Regions from separate parts of the Homo sapiens genome. Here regions 2, 3, 4 and 5 are each reported to be linked to region 1. Evidence: microRNA targets listed by miRTarBase, many of them from high-throughput screens and not tested one by one. Region 1 holds a microRNA gene; each other region holds the end of a gene's coding sequence.
Evidence for each region. The annotated mature microRNA hsa-miR-6880-5p reads UGGUGGAGGAAGAGGGCAGCUC and lies in region 1 at 1,560-1,581, opposite strand. An mRNA with a match to its seed (bases 2 to 7 or 8) in the 3' UTR can be bound and repressed. Matches are read on the target gene's strand: a 7mer-m8 pairs with bases 2 to 8, a 7mer-A1 pairs with bases 2 to 7 and ends in A, and an 8mer does both.

Region 1 (4,000 bases):
TCAGGCACCGGGCCCAGGGTTTCGGAGCCCGAGGGGCAGGGCTGCCCTCCCAGCTGGCTGGGACCCCGGGGGGGTCAAGGGGAACCCAAGCTAGGGGTAGGGTTTGGGCTCCCAAAGACAGTAAGGCAGAGAGGGGTGTTGGGGAGAGACAGGGAGGCCAAGGGAGAGGTGGAGAGAGATGCAGAGCCCGGGACAGAGACAGACAGAGAGGGAGACACAGAGAGAGATTAGGCAAGAAGGGACAGAGATGGGTTCAGGTGGTGGAGGCCGGGCGAGGCCAGCGTGAGATGGGGGCAGCATGGGTCTCTGGGGAAGGAGTGTGTGGGGCGGAGTGAGAAGTGGGGGTGTGGCTGGGAGTGACCCTGGGTCCCCGGGGCCCCGCCTGGGCTATAGCCTCGGCCATCCCAGTCCAACAGAGAGGAGCCATGAACTAGGGCCAAGGCAGGGGTCCAGAGGCAGAGGGCTCCCCTTTTTCTGGGGTACAGGGGCTGGGGACAGGGCAAGATGCAAGAGCCAGACCCAGCTCCTCCTCGACAGCGCAGGTCCCTGCCCCGCCTCAGCTTCTCCTTGCACCGCCTGCCTCCACTTCCCCCAGTCCGACAGCATCCAGGCAGCCGGCAGGTGGGGGCGTAGGCCCGAGCCCTCCCGCAGCCCCATCCCTGCTCCCTGGACACAGGCGCAAAGAGGGAGATGGGGGCGCAGTCGAAGTCAGAATCACAGATCCATTCATTAAAGAAAAAAAAGCAAAAATCCAAAAAAAAAAAACCATGGTAAAATGATGTGCAAATGATGAGCGCCCCCAAACCAGAGGGGCAGGCGCGGCCGGAGTAGTCGTCAGCGCGTGCAAACCGGCGAGGACGGATGGGCTTCAAAACAAAATACCAAAACCAACAACAAAAAAAACGGGGGCCAAAGTAAAAAGCAGAGATCTGAAAATATCTTTGGACCACGAGACGGGGTGGGTGCGGGCCGGAAGTCTTACCATCGCGAGGGGAGCCGTTGGCCAGCGCACCTCCTTCTCGCGCCCCTTTATCGTGAGCAATTTGACGCATGATAATCGCGTCTATGAAGGTGGCCGCTGTCAGGGTGGTCTTACCCAGAGAACGGAGTTCCAGTTCCTGGATGGAAAAGGGTTTACTTTGAGTCTTTTCCCGGTGCGGGTCCGAGGCCGAGGCAGGTGGCGCCGGCGGGTCCGGGCTGGCGTGGTGAGGTGCGAGGTTCTTCGCAGGGGTGCGGGCGATGGTGGCGTGGCCAGAGACAGGAGGCACTAGGGGCCGGGGCTCCGAGCCCTTGCTGGGGGAGGAGGCGGGCTCCAGCCCGGAGCGGGCTGGGGGCTTGGCGAGGAAGGCATGGCCGGTGTCTGCTCGGGGCCGCTCTGGCCGGGCGACCCGGGGGGCCTCCTTGGGCAGCAAGACGGGCTCCATGAGGGTAGGGTAGACCCCATCGAGGGTGCCGCCCAGTGGGCAGTGGGTGGCAGGTGGGAATGTGGCAGCCGGGCGAACGGGTGAGGAGGTGGAGGTGGACCTGGGGGAGGAGAGAAGGCGGTCAGGCAGTCATGGGAGCTGCCCTCTTCCTCCACCACCCTCGATGAGTCCCCATTGCCCTGGGATAAATCCACATCCCCTGCTGCTCCCAGAGTGAAACTGCCCTCCTGACTGTAACCTGCCAGACTCTGTGCGTCATGGTTTGACCCATCCCACTCATTCGTTCATTCATTCCTTGCATCATTCCAAAACTTCTGATTAAGCAGCTACTAGGTGCCAGGCACTGTTCTAGACACTGTGAATACAGCGGTCATAAAACGGATGCAAGCATCTTACCATCTAATTCAGAAAACAGACTACGATCACATTAACAGATATCCCAAGCTCTACAGAGCCTGGTAACTGTGTGGAGGTAGTCAATGAGGTACCAGGAGAGAACGGCAAGGAAGCTGAGGCAGGGCTAGGAGGTCTTCAGGGAGGGGGCACATGAGGGAGCTGGGCCTGCTCAGGATACCCGAAGAGCTAAAAAAGCCACGTGAGGAGTGAGAGAGCAAGGGGAAGGATGCCAGGGGGCGGCCAGGGTGGGCGTTGAGAACAGAGAAAGCTGCTGTTCCCAGCTCTGTGAGTGAGAAGCTGGGGCACAGCTGCCCCTGCACAGGGCTGGGGCTGGAACAGGAGCCGGCTGCTCCACCCACGTGGCCTTCCCGGAGCCCTGCGTTTCCATGGGGGCACCCCCATCTCTCGCTAACTCTACCTCCCAGAGCCTCATTCATGAGCGGGCAGTGGGCAGGCACTCGTTTTCTCCATTATATTTTTGAATCGGCTGTCACGGGCATATCCCACAGAGCCTGTGTGCGGAACCCTGCTCCCCACAGCCAGGGATTAGTGCTTCATGCACCTGCTGGGTCTGAGTCAGGGGTGACAAAGTCGCCACTGCTTTTGGGAAACGATGCCATTTTTCATAATTGAAATAATGATTAGGGGAGGTATGACTTCAGGCATCCAAGCGGCAAGTTGGGGCACAAGTACTTTTTTGAATGAAAATTCATTTTGGAGGAGTAAGTTGCCTCTAAATAGGTCCTGGAGGCTGAGTGCGGTGGCGCACGCCTGTAATCCCGGCACTTTGGGAGGCTGAGGCAGGCAGATCACTTGAGGTCAGAAGTTTGAGACCAGCCTGGCCAACGTGGTGAAACCGCATTTCTACTAAAAATATAAAAATTAGCCGGGTGTGGTTGCACGTGCCTGTAACTGCAGCTACTTGGGAGGCTGAGGCAGGAGAATCACTTGAACCCAGGAGGTGGAGGTTGCAGTAAGCAGAGATCGTACCACTGCACTCCAGCCTGGGCGACAGAGTACAACTCCATCAAAAAAAAAAAAAAAAAAAGGTTCCGGGCAGGGAAGGGTGTTGAGGTGTGACCCCACCCCCCTGGTGAAGCAGCTCTGCCCACAGTCTCTGGAGTGTGTGTCACCAGAGGGCACTCAGGGGCCTCTCCCATCTCAGAGAAACTTGGGACTTTGTCCAGGCAAGAGGGACACCTCTTTTCCTTGCTGGCCTTGCTAAATGTGGGGGACCGGGAAAGTCTTTCCTCACAGTCCCCATTCAGTCTCTCCCTCTCCACAGATTCTATTCTCAAACCAAACAACCTCCCCATCTACTCATCCCACCGCCCAACTCATCGTCCATCCACTGGGGCCTCCATCCACTCATCCCCACAATTACTCATCCAACCATCCATTCCATCATCCACCTAACCCTACCACCCACCCATCCACCCACCCACCCAGCTAACCCAGCCATCTATACTCTCACCCACCCACCTACCTCCCTAACCCTACCACCCACCCATCCACCCACCCAGCTAAGCCAGCGTCTATACTCTCACCCACCCACCTACCTACCTAACTCAGCCACCCACCCATCCATCCATCCACATGGCTAATCTGGCCATCTATCCTTCCTCCCACCTACCTACCTACTTAACCCAACCACCCACCCACCCATCCATCCATCCACCCAGTTAACCCAGCCATCTATCCTCTTACCCACCCATCTACCTACCTAACCCGATCTACCTACCACCCACCCACCCACCCACCCAGCTAAGCCAGTCATCTATCCTCTCACCCACCCACCTACCTACCTAACCCAACCACCTGCCCATCCATCCATCCATCCATCCATCCATCCATCCATCTGGCTAACTCAGTCATTTATCCTCTTAGCCACCTACCTACCTACCTACCTACCTACCTACCTACCTACCACCCACCCACCCACACAGCTAACTTGGCCATCTATCCTTTTGCCCATCTACTTACCTACCTAACGTGACCACCCACCCATCCATCCACCCAGCTAACCCAGCTATCTATCCTCTCACCCACCCACCTACCTACCTAACCCTATCACCCACCCATCCATCCATCCACCCACCCAGCTAACCTAACCATCTATCCTCCCACTGACCCACCTACCCACCTAACCCAACCACCTATCTGGCTAACCCGGCCATCTA
Region 2 (4,000 bases), not on the chromosome of region 1:
TTCTGTGACTGCATACAAATTCAAAGATATAATGCGTGACTTTGAATTGGAGTTTGCCACACTGACTTATGTTATCAAATTCTGTTCTGTGATCACACCTTGCTTTCTCTATTGAAGGCAAAAAGTATTGAGCATTTATTATATGAGACACTGGGCTGGGCACATTGTTAAATAGAATAATAATAAGCGCTAGTTGTAAATAAAGACCTAAGATAACAAAAACAGATCTAAAATAGCATATGTGTGTTGTGAAGTATTTTCCAGTGATTATACTTGGCTGTCTTTCTGGATGTCCAAGGCAGTTATTTGCAGTCACTGTCACACTTCTAAATCCCTGGTGTAGCTTGCAGTCTTGGTCATTATTTAAAACTCTGGTTAGAATGATGGTGATGGACTTTTTTTCATATAGAAGCAGTTCTCAAAGATTTAGAGCATTAATTATTTGCTCCAAAATCAGAGATATGTCTAGTTTACAAGACGTGGAAATAAGTCTGTTAACTTTTGATCTCTTTGTATTTCAGGTGGTGGCCAAAAAATATCGCAACTTTGATATTCCAAAAGAAATGACTGGCATCTGGAGATACCTAACTAATGCATACAGTAGGGACGAGTTCACCAATACCTGTCCCAGTGATAAGGAGGTTGAAATAGCATATAGTGATGTAGCCAAAAGACTCACCAAGTAAAATCGCGTTTGTAAAAGAGATGTCTTCATGTCTTCCCCTAAGAATACGCTTTTCCTAACAGGCTACTCCTTCCTGTAGAGCAGAAATTGTATTTTGCACGAACATGCAGTTATTGAAGATTAGGATCAAGGATAGACAAGGTATAGTAGTTATCTTAAAATATACACTCCTAAGCAGTATTATTTTAAAATCCTTTACCCTGGCTACCTCCCCTACCCGGGTTCCCCTCTCTTTAATTTGGAGACACTCCACCACAAACTTTTCACTTTAGAGGTAGCTTGCCATCTCTCAGGAGCCCTCACCATTGTGTCCATTCACTGTGTATAGATGGCAGAACTTTTGAGGTGCAATGTTTAATTGTTAAAAATAGTAGCCACGACTTTATCAGGCAGCCCCAAACTGGTGCATAATGCATGGTACAAGAAATATTTATGTATTTTTTGGAATTTTGTAATATTTAGTAAGAGTATATGAAAGGATTGCTACTGTATCAGAAATATTGTTTCAATTTAGTCTATCCTGGATATGTACTAACGAATATTACCACCAGAGAAGAGAGCTTTCTACAAAAGTCACTACAGATTTTGCTATATTGCTTTGTAGATAGATTTTTACTTTTGCCTAAAAGCATTTATCCTTCATACCAATTGTAACATCTGACACCATGTAGAAGCTAAAAGTTTAGAGGGAGTGAGGGTTTTCTCAAGACCTTCCTCAAGCATTTTATCTTTAGAAGAGAAACTGATGGGCACCTGATACTCTGTCTAAATACGTTTGTTATATGTGTTTTGCCCTGTGCCATTCATTTGGAACTTTATTGCATTCTTTATTTTAAAAAGCTTGTTTTTACGTAATCATAGAGCTTGCTATTTGTACATCTGTTGAGCAACACTACATAACTGATTTTTAGTTGACTTAGCTATAGCAGTACAATGATTAGTAATGTAAAAATTAACACAGAAATTAACCTAAGGAATGAAGGGTGGGTTTGTCAAAATATCAAGTAAATTTTTGTTTCTAAAGTACATTTAATGTAGATGACCTAAAGAATGCGTTATCCATCCTATATAAAAGAAAGATAAAACACAGGTCACCAATTTTCTCATTTCACCCCATTTACCTTGTATAGAGGATTGTTCATTCCTTTGGGACTAAGTTATAGTTATGGTGAGTGTGTATTTACTGTAGTTTTGCCTGATCTCACTCATTGCACTTCCTGGAGTTAAATTTTCCAACAGCCATGTTGAGGAATAGCACTCTGCATGTTTTTGTTTTGTTTTTCGGGGTTTTTTTTAATTGAAGCCCTAAACCAGGAATTATTTGTGTTCTAACAGGAGGATGAACTTGCTGAAAATAAAACTTTGCTATGTATTTACTCTTTTTTAAAAGACAAAAGCAAAACCAGACTTTCTACGTACTACTCCAAAGACTGTGATTGTGACTATAATACATTTTTGGTAATTTTTTTATACCTAATTTGTATAGGAAGTGCTATTTCTCATAGGCTGTTTCTTGAAATTTTAAGTTTATTGCTTTAAAATGGCAGTGTTTCTCCCACTTTGATATGCTAACATTTAGTAAGCACTGGCTTTATGAAAGCGGCTTTTTATAAGTATACTGCATTTTTTGAGCCTATCATTAATTAGCTTAGTATGAAAGATAAGAAAATCTCCATGTTGTATCCATTTGGCTCAGGAAGATTCTTTGCCTTACCTTTCTTAGAACTCTTTATTGCTTATCAAAAGTTTGAGTACCCGCTTGGTTTTTTTTTGGTAATTAAATATTGTATGATTTATCTGGTTCAAGGAAGATGCACTATTCAGTTATCTATTGAGAAATTATTTTGCAGTGGTTTTAGTGGGTGAAAATGTCCCATCTGCACCAGTACACAGGCAGGCATTATCATTCTTCACCTACTTTTTAAATAGTGGCAACTTGGGATTCATTCTGGTGATTCTGAACCTTGCCTCATAGCTTAAAGTATAAAAAAGATTCAAGAGCAGTGAGGTTTGTTCTTTCCAGTGAATGGTGGACTGAGTGGTGCGAGGTGGAGGGCTAACAAGAGGAAAGAACTACATTCTTCAGAATACAGTGATGAAAATTCATTTTGAAACTCAAATATTTTCATTTTGGATATTCTCCTGTTTTTATTAAACCAGTGATTACACCTGGCCATCCCTCTAAATGTTCTAGGAAGGCATGTCTATTGTGATTTTGATGAAGACAGAATTATTTTTCTCTGTAGAAACACAGATACCACTTTATCAGGGAAGTTAGTCAAATGAAATGGAAATTGGTAAATGGACAAAAGCTAGCTAGTAAAAAGGACGACCCAGCAACATGCTTTAACCCCATTGTATGTTTGTGGAAAGAGCATAGTTTAACATCTTGAGAAATTTGGGACATAAAGTTTTCATGGTAGACAGTTCATGCAGTATATGAATTGCCATAATGGAAATAATCTGATTTTATTTTTACAACTAACATCCATTCCCCTTCATTTAAACACCTTTTGTGTTTTACTTCAGTGAGGAGATTGGAGTCTGAATGGATCTGTTTTCCAAGAGATTCTGAGAAATTTTTGTATTCAGCAGTTGGAAAGCTCTCTATTCTAGTTGATAAAACTTCCCTTTTTTGATGTAGATGCAGATATTCTATACAGTTCTGTTGTCTTTTACTAGGACTGTAAACTTTTGTGATAAAATTCAAATAAGATTTTATTTCTTGGTAATTTTGGCTTTCACAATTTATCTTTAAATCCTTGAGCAATCTGTATACAATTAAGAGATTTCTGACATTTATTCTTACACTAAATGGATCAACTCTAGGATTTAGGCATGTTAACTTCTGTTGTGTTTTGAATCTCTCCAGAGTTGCATGTAGATAGCATTTATTTCTGTGCCCTTAAACCCATTTAGAAAATAACTACAAAGTAAAAATGTAGAGGAAATAGAAATGTATTTTTTCATGAACATTTTGATACAAATTTCATCATTTAATGATTCACCAATTTCTTGCATTAATTTGAATTTAAGCATTTAATTCAAAGAGAGGGGAGCATCCATTATTGATACATGTGGGCTTTTAAAAACTCCATCCTTTATAAATAGTCAAGGTTTGGGCCACACAAAGTATATTTTTATCATGGAAAAATTTCAACTCCTCAAGCCGTAATGTTGAACAGAATTGGAGTATTTTCTTTATAATTTCTTGAACAGGCAAATGAAAGCTTATTATAGAATGCATGTATTTTCTTTTATCTTTGGAACATCAGCACCAGTATATTGCTGGCAGCTATTGTATTAAAAAATAAA
Region 3 (4,000 bases), not on the chromosome of region 1:
CCATTTGTTCAAACATGGCTAAAGGGTTTTGACACTGACTCCTAGTCACCATCAAATCCCTCCAATGTGAGACCAGACCAGCCACCTAGGACAGGTCTATCCTGGCACGAAGGAATAATATGGGATGACTCACTGGGGATGCTTTCTGATAAAGATCTTGATCAAATGGGGGAAATGTGGAAGTTGTCAGAATTATAAAGGAGTCACTTGTGCTTAAAAAACAAAACAAAACTGACAAATAGAGTCATGGAAGGCCAGGAAAGAAGGGTTCTCCCTGCATAAATCACTGATAACAAGAGCCATCACAAGACTGAAAAAACGAAAACCTTGCACAAAGGCCATGACAATCTTAAACACACACAAAGACTCCTGCAAGGACCTCTGCCCAGCAACTCCCTGTCCAACCCTGGACTGGCACCACCCTTATTATCCTTGTAGCCAAGGATAATTGTCTCAAAATAATTATGTAATCCTCCTTATTTTCCTCTAAGAACCATTGTCTTCCTTTACCTCTTCAAAAACACGCATAGTTTACTATGGCACATGTATTCCCATTGCAATGCCCTATTCCCCAATACATATCATTTTCTTTCTTTTAGAGAGCCTCTCTCTGTTATCTATCTAGGTTGACAGAGATGATGGAGTAGAGCTGCCCCAGTTAAGGTATTCCAACAGACAGAGGCCCCAGTTGACCCACATTCAACTGAGCCCAACCTAAGTCAGCTGACTGACCCCCTACTAACCCCCGAGCTATGATAATAAATGACTGTTGCTTTAAGCCATTGAATTTTAAGACAAGACAGTTTGTTACACAGAAATAGATAAGTGATACAATGCCTTATGAGCTAATGATGGCAACTTGGAAAGCAATGCTCCAGGTGGTTTTTACATGATCTCTTTGTAATGTTTGCTTCTGCCTAGTGAATGTCCCAGGCCATAACATTTTAGGCACTTTGTTTATAGCTGGTTGCAATCCTACAGTCTCATCATACATAGGGCAATAACCAGGAACAGAGCAATCAGAACCTTCCCCACTCACCCCCCGACCCACCACCCCAAATACAAAGAGAGCTCACATTACGGTAGTCTATAAATCTTATTAATGTGTTTATTGAGATTATAAAATATAATAAGTTATATATATACAGAATTAGACAAAAATAATATTGACAATTAAGACTTCACTGTCTAAGGGCCACAGACCTACCCTGGGGTGTTTTCTAAATGTTTTAAAGTATTGCAGAATTATGAATATCTCCACACAAAAATGGCAGGATGGAGTCCCAGCTTTGGTCAGTGAGAATTATTATGATCTCATTGTTCTGAATCCCATAACATAGGCTAAAGCTTGTCAGAGTAAATCCCATGTTTCCAAATAAGTAAATGACAAGGGAATTTGTAACTATATAAGGAATAGCTCCCTAAAAATGGCAGGTGGAGAGCCAATGGAACATGAGCTGACACTGGCTGGCCTTACAGCCCCAGAATTCTAATAGTGTGAAATGAGGCCAAAGCACCAGGAGCAGAGAACAGCCACCCCACTCTTTCGCTGAAAACATTCTGAGGAGGGTGCAAGCTGTTATCCTGGAATGGCACACTCATCACAAGTGACATTTGCAGTCTAATTAAGGGGAGACTCACTCATCATCATCACAAGGCAGGGGGAAGGGGGCACCACAGGATTTCAAAGAGGAATTAAAAGGATAATTAAGCTCTGCCGTGGAGTATTTAGCTTGCAGGGTAAACCAAATAGGTTCGAAAAACAGCAGCAAACAGACACAGTAAATGATGATATTAAATATTCAGGACCTCATTATGATCCTCTCACAGTATGTACTACATTCGTTGGTGGGAAATTGCTTGTTGGTGTTAAAGATATGACTGATTTTCCCCCTAAAGCATTTTTTCAGTCATGCAACTTGTAATTTTTACAACCTCGCTTTATAAGTCAGAGACTTTGTTTTAATGTAGTAATAAACACAGACCTGCCATCAGGGAGTTCAGCAGTGAACTCTAACCCCTGGTGTGATCACTAGCCTGGCTCCTGAGCTCTTGGCAGTTACAGGGATAGTACAATAATATGCCAAGAACAATGCCAGTTTATTAACTTTCTGCCTATAAATGTTATGTCAAACCATTGCAGTTATTGTGAAAATGCCAAGTCTGAGTTTTTCTGTTTTTATTCCCATTTAAATGGACAAACCACACTGTGTTGACTTCCATAGAGCACCTCAAAGGCCTGGCATTTCCTATAGCTCCACTTTCTTTTTGCTCACCTGAACCCTACCTGCCCCAATTATAGAATCACTAACTAACATCTCATTGGCAGACGAGAAACTGAGGCAGAGAGAGGAAAAGACAAGGCCCAAGGTGGCACAACTAGAAGCCAGCTCCCTCGACATCAAGCCCAGGCTCTCATTTGCGCTGCAGAACTCCACTTTCCCTGACTGGCTCAGAAGGCTGAGTCTGAAACTCTCATGCCATGAGGCTAATCCACAAGTCTTAGATGCTCTTGAAATCTAGAATTATGCGTGGCTGAACTCTTAGGAAGTCATCATTTCTCTAATTACAGCTGACTACTCATACATGTTTGAAGTGAAAACACAGCCTGACACATTATAATTTAAATTGCTGTGTCCTTCAGCATTGCTGCCCCTAAAAGGTCAAATCTGCCTAAGACTGAAGTGGAAGGCCATTCACATGTAGTGCAGACCACAGGGTTCCCAGGCCAAAGAGTAATGCAGTAAATGAAATTGGCTACTGCACACATCCAATTGCTTGGACAAACACATGCCTTGCATATTGGTTTTGTATAGAGTGAGCTCTTCCATTATTGACTGGAAGGCCTGTAAGAATATGGATGACCTCAAGGATAGGTAAAAAGTTATCCTAATGAAACCACATAGGGTATTAACAGACTTGTACTAAACCTGAAATAATACCTGGAGCAGGGTGTCTGCATTTTGTTGCCATTTTATCAAAATGTTTGAGCTGCTTCTTCACTAGGATGCCATCCTTCATCATCCCAGTAGGGAGTCATCTCCCGCTTAGAACTTCTATTAACGTTTTCTAAGCGCCCCTTCATTCAGCTTGTTTGACGTCTTCCAGTGAAGTGGTTTGTAAACATACGTTCCTTCTGTCTTCTACTGGAGTGCAAACTCCTTAAAGACAGGGACCAGATTCTTCACTTCTGTCATTCCCACGGGGTTTGATTCATTTGAGTCCTCAACATTGTCTCATTGTTCAGTGAGTTAATGGTGGGCTGGTGGGCTGGCTGTATGAGTGAGTAGATATTTACTCTGCCTGGTGAGGTACAGGCGAGCATCTGAAAGTATCCCGGCTCTAGTCCTTTATCTTTGGTTAAATTGGAAGACAGGCCTTATTTCGTCTGGCTCCTTGAACATCCTAAGGCATACGGTGACATATCACAAAAGCCTTGATTCTTGGCAGTCTTTTGGCACCACTCACAGCTCCAGAGCCCTCGTTGGCTCCTTGGCTTGTCCTGGGAGGACAGCCCACAGGCATGCTTTTCAGGATGCAGCATGTGGCTGGGAGGCAGGTGGCACAACCCCCGCCCACTCCAGTATGTCTGCACACAAGGACTCCACAGCATCCAGCCGCTCAATCTGCACCAGTTTTGTGAGTAGCTCAGGGATGCTGTAGCCTGCCGTGCTGATGCGGTCAAAGAGTTGCATGCCGTCTGTCATGCCCCCAATCTCATCCCTCTTCAGGCCGAAGCTCTCGGCGAGGTGGCGCCACGTTTTCACAACAGCCTTCTCAGAGTTGTACGTGGAGCTGAGCATTCGGCTAGTCTTCTCGAGGCAATCAAATGGCAGCTCCGTGGGGCTAAGACCTACAGACACCAATGGCCACAGTTAGATGTTGCAAGTCACAGTCAATAGAAGGTCAACACTGAAAAATTATTTAAATGAAATAAAAATTATTTGAAAAAAATTTTTTTAAAATTATAAAACATGCAGAAAGCCACCTAAAACAAATG
Region 4 (4,000 bases), not on the chromosome of region 1:
GGGAGACAGAGGTTGCAGTGAGCCAATATCGTGCCACTGCACTCCAGCCTGGCTGACAGAGCAAGACTCTGTCTCAAAACAAACAAGCAAGAAGAGCCAGGCATGGTGGCTCACGCCTGTAATTCCAGCACTTTGGGAGGCCGAGGCAGGTGGATCACCTGAGGTTAGGAGTTCGAGGTCAGCCTAGCCAACATGGTGAAACCCTGTCTCTACTAAAAATACAAAAATTAACTGGGTGTGGTGGCAGGTGCCTGTAATCCCAGCTACTCGGGAGGGTGAGACAGGAGAATCGTTTGAACCTGGGAGGCGGAGGTTACAGTGAGCCGAGATCACGCCACTGCACTCCAGCCTGGGCAACAAAGAGTGAAACTCTGTCTCAAAAAACAAACAAACAAACAAAAACTGAGATATCACTTTTAATTTATTTGCTTGGCAAAAATAACATTTGATAGCTCATTGTTGGTGAGGGTATGAAGAAGCAAGTTATCTTACACATTGCTGGTGAGAGTGAAAGTTGCAACAACTTCTGTGGAAGAAGATTTCACAATATCATCAAAATTACAAAGGCACATACTCTTTGATCTAGCAATTCTACTTTCTACTAGTACTAATTACGCTACATATATACACCTGTGGAAATCACATGGCAAAAGAAATTCACTTCAGCAAAATTAGGAATAGTAAAATAGGACACAATCTTAATGTTGCTCGATAGAGAATCAGTCCATCCATAAGCTGGAACATTTTGCAGCCATAAAAAGGAACTATGAAGCTTTTTATGTACGAATAAAGGATGATTTCCAAGATATATTTAGTAAAAAGAGCAAAGTGCGGAAGTGCATTTATAGTATACTTTGGAAATATGTATGTAAAACAGTACACATTATAGTTATATATAATCATATGTTAGGTAATACATTATTATATATTAGTGTATTTTATATTAAACAATTTATTTCTAGAATGTTATTTGTATATAAGTTAAATAAATATATATTTTGCCCCTTTTTTCACACAACTGGTAGCATACTATATATATACATATATATGTATATATGGATTTGTTTTTTTGTCTTTTTTTTTTTTTTTTTTTTTTTTAGAGACAGGGTCTGGCTATGTTGCCCAGGATGGAGTGCAATGGCTATTCACAGGCCTGCTATCATAGCACACTACAGCTTCAAATTCCTGGCCCTCCTGGCCTCAAGTGATCCTCCTGCTTCAACCTTCTGAGTAGCTGGGACTACAGGCATGCCACTGTGCCTGGCCTTATTTTTAATGTATATATTTTTCTGTAGATAGTTGACTATCTGTGGAAGAATACTCAGGAAAATGGCAACAGTGATTGCCTCTTGAGAATTGGGTGACTAGGGAGAGAAGTAGGTGGGAGATTTTTTTTGTATACTCATACCTTTTGAATATTGTACCATGTGCCTTTTGAATATTGTACCATGTGCCTTTTGAATATTGTACCATGTGACAAAGTCTATCAGATAAAGACCACCAAGGAACACACCTGCGGTCAAGTTAAGTTTATGAGCTTGCTGCTGTAAGGAAGACCCCACACCAGAGAAACCAAGGATATAACAGTAAGAGGGAACAGAAGGAAACTTTTTTATTTTTTGAGATGGAGTCTCACTCTGTCGCCAGGGCTGGAGTGCAGTGGTGCGATCTTGGCTCACTGCAACCTCTGCCTCCCGGGTTCAAGTGATTCTCCTGTCTCAGCCTCCCAAGTAGCTGGGATTACAGGCACCCACCACTATGCCCAGCTAATTTTTTTTTGTATTTTTAGTAGAGACAGGGTTTCACCATGTTGGCCAGGCTAGTCTCAAACTCCTGACCTTGTGATTCGCCCATCTCGGCCTTCCAAAGTGCTGGGATTACAGGCGTGAGCCACTGTGCCCGGCCCAGAAAGGAACTTTTACAAGATTTGGGCTTCTGTTGAATGATTGAGGAGAGTCTAGGGAAGCAAGGATTGGCTCTTGATTGGGTATCTCAGCAGTCTGTTCAGAGGCACGAGGAACAAAGCGAAGTCATTGGTAAGAAAGTGGTAATCACTGAAAAGAAGAAGGTTGTTAGGCATTTTGCAGGTGTGGTGTGGCCTTGGGAAGAAGTTTTCTGATGGCCTTGCCACTGGCCCTGTCTGTATCTAGTTGGTACATTACAGTCTGATTAAAATCAGCACTGATCTTTCCTTTCTCAGTCCTGAACTGACTTTTACTTTCTGACACTTGAATGTCTTATCTATTCAAAAACTAAGGCATATTTTAAAGTAAAAAGAATGAAAATAAACCTTCTCCACACACTTCTTGAGCCTAGATTACCAGTTCCCTAGCAAATAAGAAATTTATTTGGCAGACAAGAAAGTCAAGTGTGTGTGTGTGTGTGTGTGTTTCTGAGCAATGCTGCTCCTTCCGATGATCAAATATGAAGAAGTAACTATCTTCAGAAAAAAGATGAAGGCAAGTACCCCAGTACTGCAGTAGCTGATGCCAGGGAGACTGGAGTATAGGGGTGGCTCTGGGCATCATGTCCCCATCCCCTGCCAGGGCTGAGTACTTGGCTCTTGAATCTCTTTTTTCAATTGCTGTTACTCTTTCCCATGATGCTGACTCTAAGAGTGCACAAGGCTAAAACATGCATTGCTCTCAATAGGAATCTGTAGCAGAGACAGCGATGTTTAGGGCCAACAAAGATCTTGGGCAAGTCACTTCACTTTCCACCATAAAGAAAATGAAAGGACTGGAGCAAATGATGCCTGAAATCTTGGCTAAGGCCTCAGCAATCAACATTGGCAGCAATCAACCCCTGCCCTCCTCCCCAATACAACCTTGTTATGTTCACAGTAAAACAATCACAACAGGAAGAATAGTGTAGCATCAGATAAATTGTCTTCCAATCCTTTTCACTAGAGGCAACCCTTAGTTAACAGTTATGTGTTTTTCCAGCTATTTTTGTTCAGAGACAGTATCTCCTTCCCATTTTCCATTTAGGAAAAAAAAAAGTGTAGCTCGCTGCCTGCACTCATTTAGTTTTACATAAACACCCTCTTTGAGGCTGAAGCAAATCTGACTGATTTTCAATGTGAAAATAAAATATAAAAACTGTTCTTGGTGCTAGGCGCAGTGGCTCATGCCTATAATCCCAGGACTTTGTGAGGCCCAGATAGGCGGATCACCTGAGGTCGGGAGGTCAAGACTAGCCTGACCAACATGGATAAACCCAGTCTCTACTAAAAATGCAAAATTAGGTGGGTGTGGTGGCACATGCCTGTAATCCCAGCTACTAGGGAGGCTGAGGCACGAGAATCGCTTGAACCTGGGAGGTGGAGGTTACAGTGAGCCAATATCATGCCATTGCACTCCAGCCTGGGCAACAAGAGTGAAACTCCGTCTCAAAACAAAACAAAACAAAACAAAAACAACAAAACTGTTCTTGGAGTTATTTCTTTTTTTTGAGATGGAGTCTCGCTATGTCACCCAGGCTGGAGTGCAGTGGTGTGATCTCAGCTCACTGCAACCTCCGCCTCATGGGTTCAAGCAATTCTCCTGCCTCAGCCTCCCAAGTAGCTTGGATTACAGGCATGTGCCACCACATCCAGCTAATTGTTGTATTTTTAGTAGAGACAGGGTTTCACCATGTTGGCCAGGCTGGTCTTGAATTCCTGATCTCAGGTGATCCACCCAGGTCGGCCTCCCAATCTTGGAGTTATTTCTAAACAGAACTTGTCTCTAATCCTAATGGAACAGATGTGTATGATGATCGGTATTTAATAATTTTTTTTCGTGTGGTAAATTTCAAAGCACGGAACAACACAAAGCGGAACATCACATTCGGCACAAAAATAGCGCGTTTCTTTCCGGATCTTCTTGCCATCCTTGTCGTATTGGGAGCAGCAAATTTTGCAGCGACCAGTTGGATTCTGTTTCCCGGACGTTGCTGGTATGCTCTTGGGGAAATGTCTTCCAGACAGACGAAGAGGTGTGACATCATCGGAGCAAGG
Region 5 (4,000 bases), not on the chromosome of region 1:
CATTAAACATAAACTAATCATTTTAACCCACGAGGAGAAAATGAAACCGTTGGCTAATTGGGGGCTCTCCCTGCATCTCCCGAGCTGAGAATCACTGCTCTCGGGAAAGGTGTGTTTCCATGAAATCAGGTTTGTGGTTTTTTTGAACATCCACCCCGCGCTTGCTGTTAATTTCTTTTGTTTTGAACCCAGCACCTTTCCTTCTCTTTACTCGATCAGCCCAGTAGGGAGGAAGTTCTCATCTAGAGGCGAGTGCTGGGACTCAGGCATTTTCACACGTCTAAAAGGGAAGAGCGCTCTGCGAGCCCTAGAGCCGCTGGGTGGGGCACATTGCAAATGCGGGTGCAGATATGTATTGCTCATGACTGAAGTCATGTTTTCTTCTCCACTAAGGACCTCCCACCTGCGTCTTCATCTTGTCCTTCAATGAGCAGACGAGAGTTCAGAAAAATGCATTTCAGAGCCAAAGATGATGATGATGACGACGACGATGATGCAGAAATGTAGGGGCCATACAAAATAATGTCCTTGAGTATTTAGTACCATTAACAATTTGACAATTTAGCACATTACAAGATTTATATAAAATGTATCTCCAAGAGAATGTCTTAATCAAACTTCAGAACTGACCCATCTAAGTCAATAGTGCAAAGCACCCAATACCTGTGGAGGATGTACTCATGGGAACTAAAACTCAAACCATCTTTGAGGTTGCAAAGCTGCTGTACTGTGCCAATGTCCTTTCTTTTTTTTTTTTTTTTTTTTTCCTTGGAGACAGAGTTTCTCTCTTGTCGCCCAGGCTGGAGTGCAATGGCGCAATCTCGGCTCACTGCAACCTCCACCTCCTGGGTTCAAGTGATTCTCCTGCCTCAGCCTCCTGAGTAGCTGGGATTACAGGCATACACCACCACACCCAGCTAGTTTTTGTATTATTAGTAGACACGGGGGTTTCTCCACGTTGGCCAGGCTGGTCTCAAACTCCTGACCTCGTGATACGCCCGCCTCAGCCTCCCAAAGTGCTGGGATTACAGGCGCGAGCCACCATGCCCGGCCAGTGTCCTTTCTTATACACGTACATACATGATGATGGCTTGAGTCAGCTGCAGGGCAGTGGGCTTAATGAGAGGGATCTTTGTAAAGACAGCTCTTCACTTCAGCTCAGTAGCTTTGGTCATAGGCAAGTTTGTTTTCCATTATCATAATTTGATGATTCTTGTGATGAATTCAATGCTAGTTCTTAAAGAACTCTTTTATTTCTGTATGTGGAGCTAATGTTTACCTTGGAAATTTTGCAAAATACATGTAAGAAAGAAATAAAATATATTTTGAAAATATTTTGAAAGCAGTCGTATGTTCGTAAAACCGGATTCCTTTCTCAATGCCTGGGAGCCGAGTAGAGGAAACACATCCTGCCTCAGTCTCATGCTCCCAAATGCTCATAAGGCTGGGTCCATCTTTTTTTTTTTTTTTTCTGAGACTGAGTCTCACTCTGTTGCCCAGGCTGGAGTGCAGTGGCACAATCTCGGCTCACTGCAACCTCTGCCTCCCGGGTTCAAGCGATTCTCCAGGCTCAGCCTCCCAGGTAGCTGGGATTACAGGCATGTACCACCATGCCTGGCTAATTTTTCGTATTTTTAGTAGAGACGGGGTTTCACCATGTTGGCCAGGCTGGTCTCGAACTCCTGGCCTCAGGTGATCCGCCTGCCTCGGCCTCCCACAGTGCTGGGATGACAGGCGTGAGCCACTACGCCCGGCACGGGTCCATCTTTTAGACCTGTTAACCACCGAGGCCCCCGGGACAGGGCCTCTTCCCTTCTCTCGAGTGTACTTCCACTCCCACTTTGCTGCAGAAGTGTCGGGCTTTCCTATCCTGTGTGGTGGAGACGGTCAGCCATCCAGCGAAGGCCATGCTCTCCTCCAGGCCATAGAGAGGTCCGTGTGCAGCTGCCTGACGAGAACTGCATTCCCCAGCCCCAGCGGCGTCAGGGAGCACCTCACCGTGTGTTCTCGCCCAGGGCAGTGGAGACAAGCCATTGGGAGTGCTCTCTCCATGGCCTCTTCCTGCCGCCACCTGCACATAGAAGCTGAGTGGACCAACCAGGAGCAAGCTGGGGTCCCCGGGTGACCAAGGACAAGGAGAAGTTGCCTGCGATGTGGGAAGACTGGGCCTTTTCATGAGGGAACAAGTGAGTCTTGCTGGTTTTGAGCTTTTATATGTTTCTGGTTTAATTACAAGAGCAGCTAGAATTAACCCTGTGAAAATGTCCTATGAAGCACAGGAAGGATTTTCTATAACAGATAAATTGGAAGCAAAATATAGTTGAAGTGCCCTGTAAGAAGTGTTTCCGCTCTTTACTATTCAAACACTGCCCTCCCTGAAGGTGTCATTCTCCACTTCTAATGTGATCCTTTTCTCATGAGCTGTGACTTTCACCTGTTTTGAATAACTTTGTGATTTATTGATCAACAAACTATAATTTGGAAATGTGGCTTATAAAGTCATTTTATGGTAGCCAGGGAAAATAATTTACAACTTTTGCCGGGCACAGTGGCTCACGCCTATAATCCCAACACTTTCAGAGGCTGAGGCAGGCAGATCACCTGAGGTCAGGAGTTCGAGAACAGCCTGGCCAACATAGTGAAACCCCGTCTCCACTAAAAATACAAAAATTAGCCGGGCGTGGTGGTGGGCGCCTATAATCCCAGCTACCTGGGAGGCTAAGGCAGGGGAATCACTTGAACCCAGGAAGCCGAGGTTGCAGTGAGCTGGGATCACGCCATTGCACTCCAGCCTGGGCAACAGAGCGAGACTCTGCCTCTAAAATAAATAAATAAATAAAGTACAACTTCAGATTGCTGCATGAATAACTATTAATAACAGCACCTGGCCGGGCGCGGTGGCTCACGCCTGTAATGCCAGCACTTTGGGAGGCTGAGGCGGGCGGATCATGAGGTCAGGAGATCGAGACCATCCTGGCTAACCTGGTGAAACCCCCTCTCTACTAAAAACACAAAAAAAAAAATTAACCGGGCGTGGTGGCAGGTGCCTGTAGTCCCAGCTACTCGGGAGGCTGAGGCAGGAGAATGGCGTGAACCCAGGAGGCGGAGCTTGTAGTGAGCCAAGATCACGCCACTGCACTCCAGCCTGGGTGACAGAGCGAGACTCCGTCTCAAAAAATTAAAAAAAAATTTTTTTTTTAAATGACAGCACCTATCCTGGTGGTGACGAGAATTTTGCCATCCTCTAAGCAGACTTCAGTGAGGTGCACTGTCCCAAATGATGATACACCTGCAGAGGAGACGCAGCACGCAGAGTGGAAAGTGTGTGTGTTCCTGGGGCCACCCCTATTCACTCACAGTGGTTAACCTGCACTAACAAGCACTGCCAGGTAGAAACACTTCCTAGTCTACATGTGGACTGTAGCCTGCACAGACCTAGGGGGACTGACCAAAGGGGGGCGAATGAGGGAATAAAAGATAAGATACAAAAGAGTGTATTTGTGCTCACGCACACCCCCTGGCGCAGGCCGACTGTGGCTCTGCCTACAGCGCTTCCTCCTGAGCTGCAGGAGGGCCATGTCTTGTGGTCGTGTTTGCTGCAGCTTTGCCGTCTGGATGGAGCCTGGCACTGAGCTGGTTGAGGCCGTCTGCAGGCCTTTACTGGGCTCTTCCCTTGGAAGCTTCTTACTGATGCCAGGACCTCCCAGCAGGTGACCCTCAGCCCCACAGATCACAGAATTCCACACTCTTAGCTCCTAGAACTTTTCTCCCTCTTGTGTGAGAATGCACAGACCACACACTCTTTCTTTGTTGCAGAGGTTCAGCCACCTTTTCTAACCTGAGACTCTGGGTGACATAACTCCTGATAGGTGATAGCTCTTTGTAACAATCACCAGCACCTTGCCCAGCCAAGGGCCCGGAAGCAAGAAAAAAACAACCAAAACACCATGTCACAGCCAGGAGAGCCTTGCACGCTTCACACACAGCTCAACAAGCCTGG

Region 2: the mRNA of CLIC4 is a reported target of hsa-miR-6880-5p. Seed matches in the 3' UTR shown: 8mer at 933-940.
Region 3: miRTarBase lists EDAR as a target of hsa-miR-6880-5p. Seed matches in the 3' UTR shown: 7mer-m8 at 1,434-1,440.
Region 4: the mRNA of PGBD4 is a reported target of hsa-miR-6880-5p. Seed matches in the 3' UTR shown: 7mer-m8 at 3,322-3,328.
Region 5: the mRNA of C1orf174 is a reported target of hsa-miR-6880-5p. Seed matches in the 3' UTR shown: 7mer-m8 at 837-843.

Annotation. Positions count from the first base shown.
Region 1 is chr12:124,335,657-124,339,656 of GRCh38, forward strand. It overlaps MIR6880 (microRNA 6880), which reads right to left and starts at 1,586; the gene lies at 1,525-1,586. It overlaps NCOR2 (nuclear receptor corepressor 2), which reads right to left. Exons shown (of 49, transcript NM_006312.6): 40 at 1,097-1,524. RefSeq lists a silencer at 798-978.
Region 2 is chr1:24,840,252-24,844,251 of GRCh38, forward strand. CLIC4 (chloride intracellular channel 4) reads left to right here. Exons shown (of 6, transcript NM_013943.3): 6 at 522-4,000. The coding sequence ends at 686. Among named protein-coding and RNA genes, the nearest start is that of MIR6731, 77 kb to the right of the region's middle.
Region 3 is chr2:108,893,377-108,897,376 of GRCh38, forward strand. EDAR (ectodysplasin A receptor) reads right to left here. Exons shown (of 12, transcript NM_022336.4): 12 at 1,095-3,853. The coding sequence ends at 3,531. It also overlaps a transcript of RANBP2 not described here. Among named protein-coding and RNA genes, the nearest start is that of EDAR, 94 kb to the right of the region's middle.
Region 4 is chr15:34,104,056-34,108,055 of GRCh38, reverse strand. PGBD4 (piggyBac transposable element derived 4) reads right to left here. Exons shown (of 1, transcript NM_152595.5): 1 at 1-4,000. The coding sequence ends at 3,767. Among named protein-coding and RNA genes, the nearest start is that of PGBD4, 4.0 kb to the right of the region's middle.
Region 5 is chr1:3,886,467-3,890,466 of GRCh38, reverse strand. It overlaps C1orf174 (chromosome 1 open reading frame 174), which reads left to right. Exons shown (of 4, transcript NM_207356.3): 4 at 394-1,334. The coding sequence ends at 507. Among named protein-coding and RNA genes, the nearest start is that of C1orf174, 12 kb to the left of the region's middle.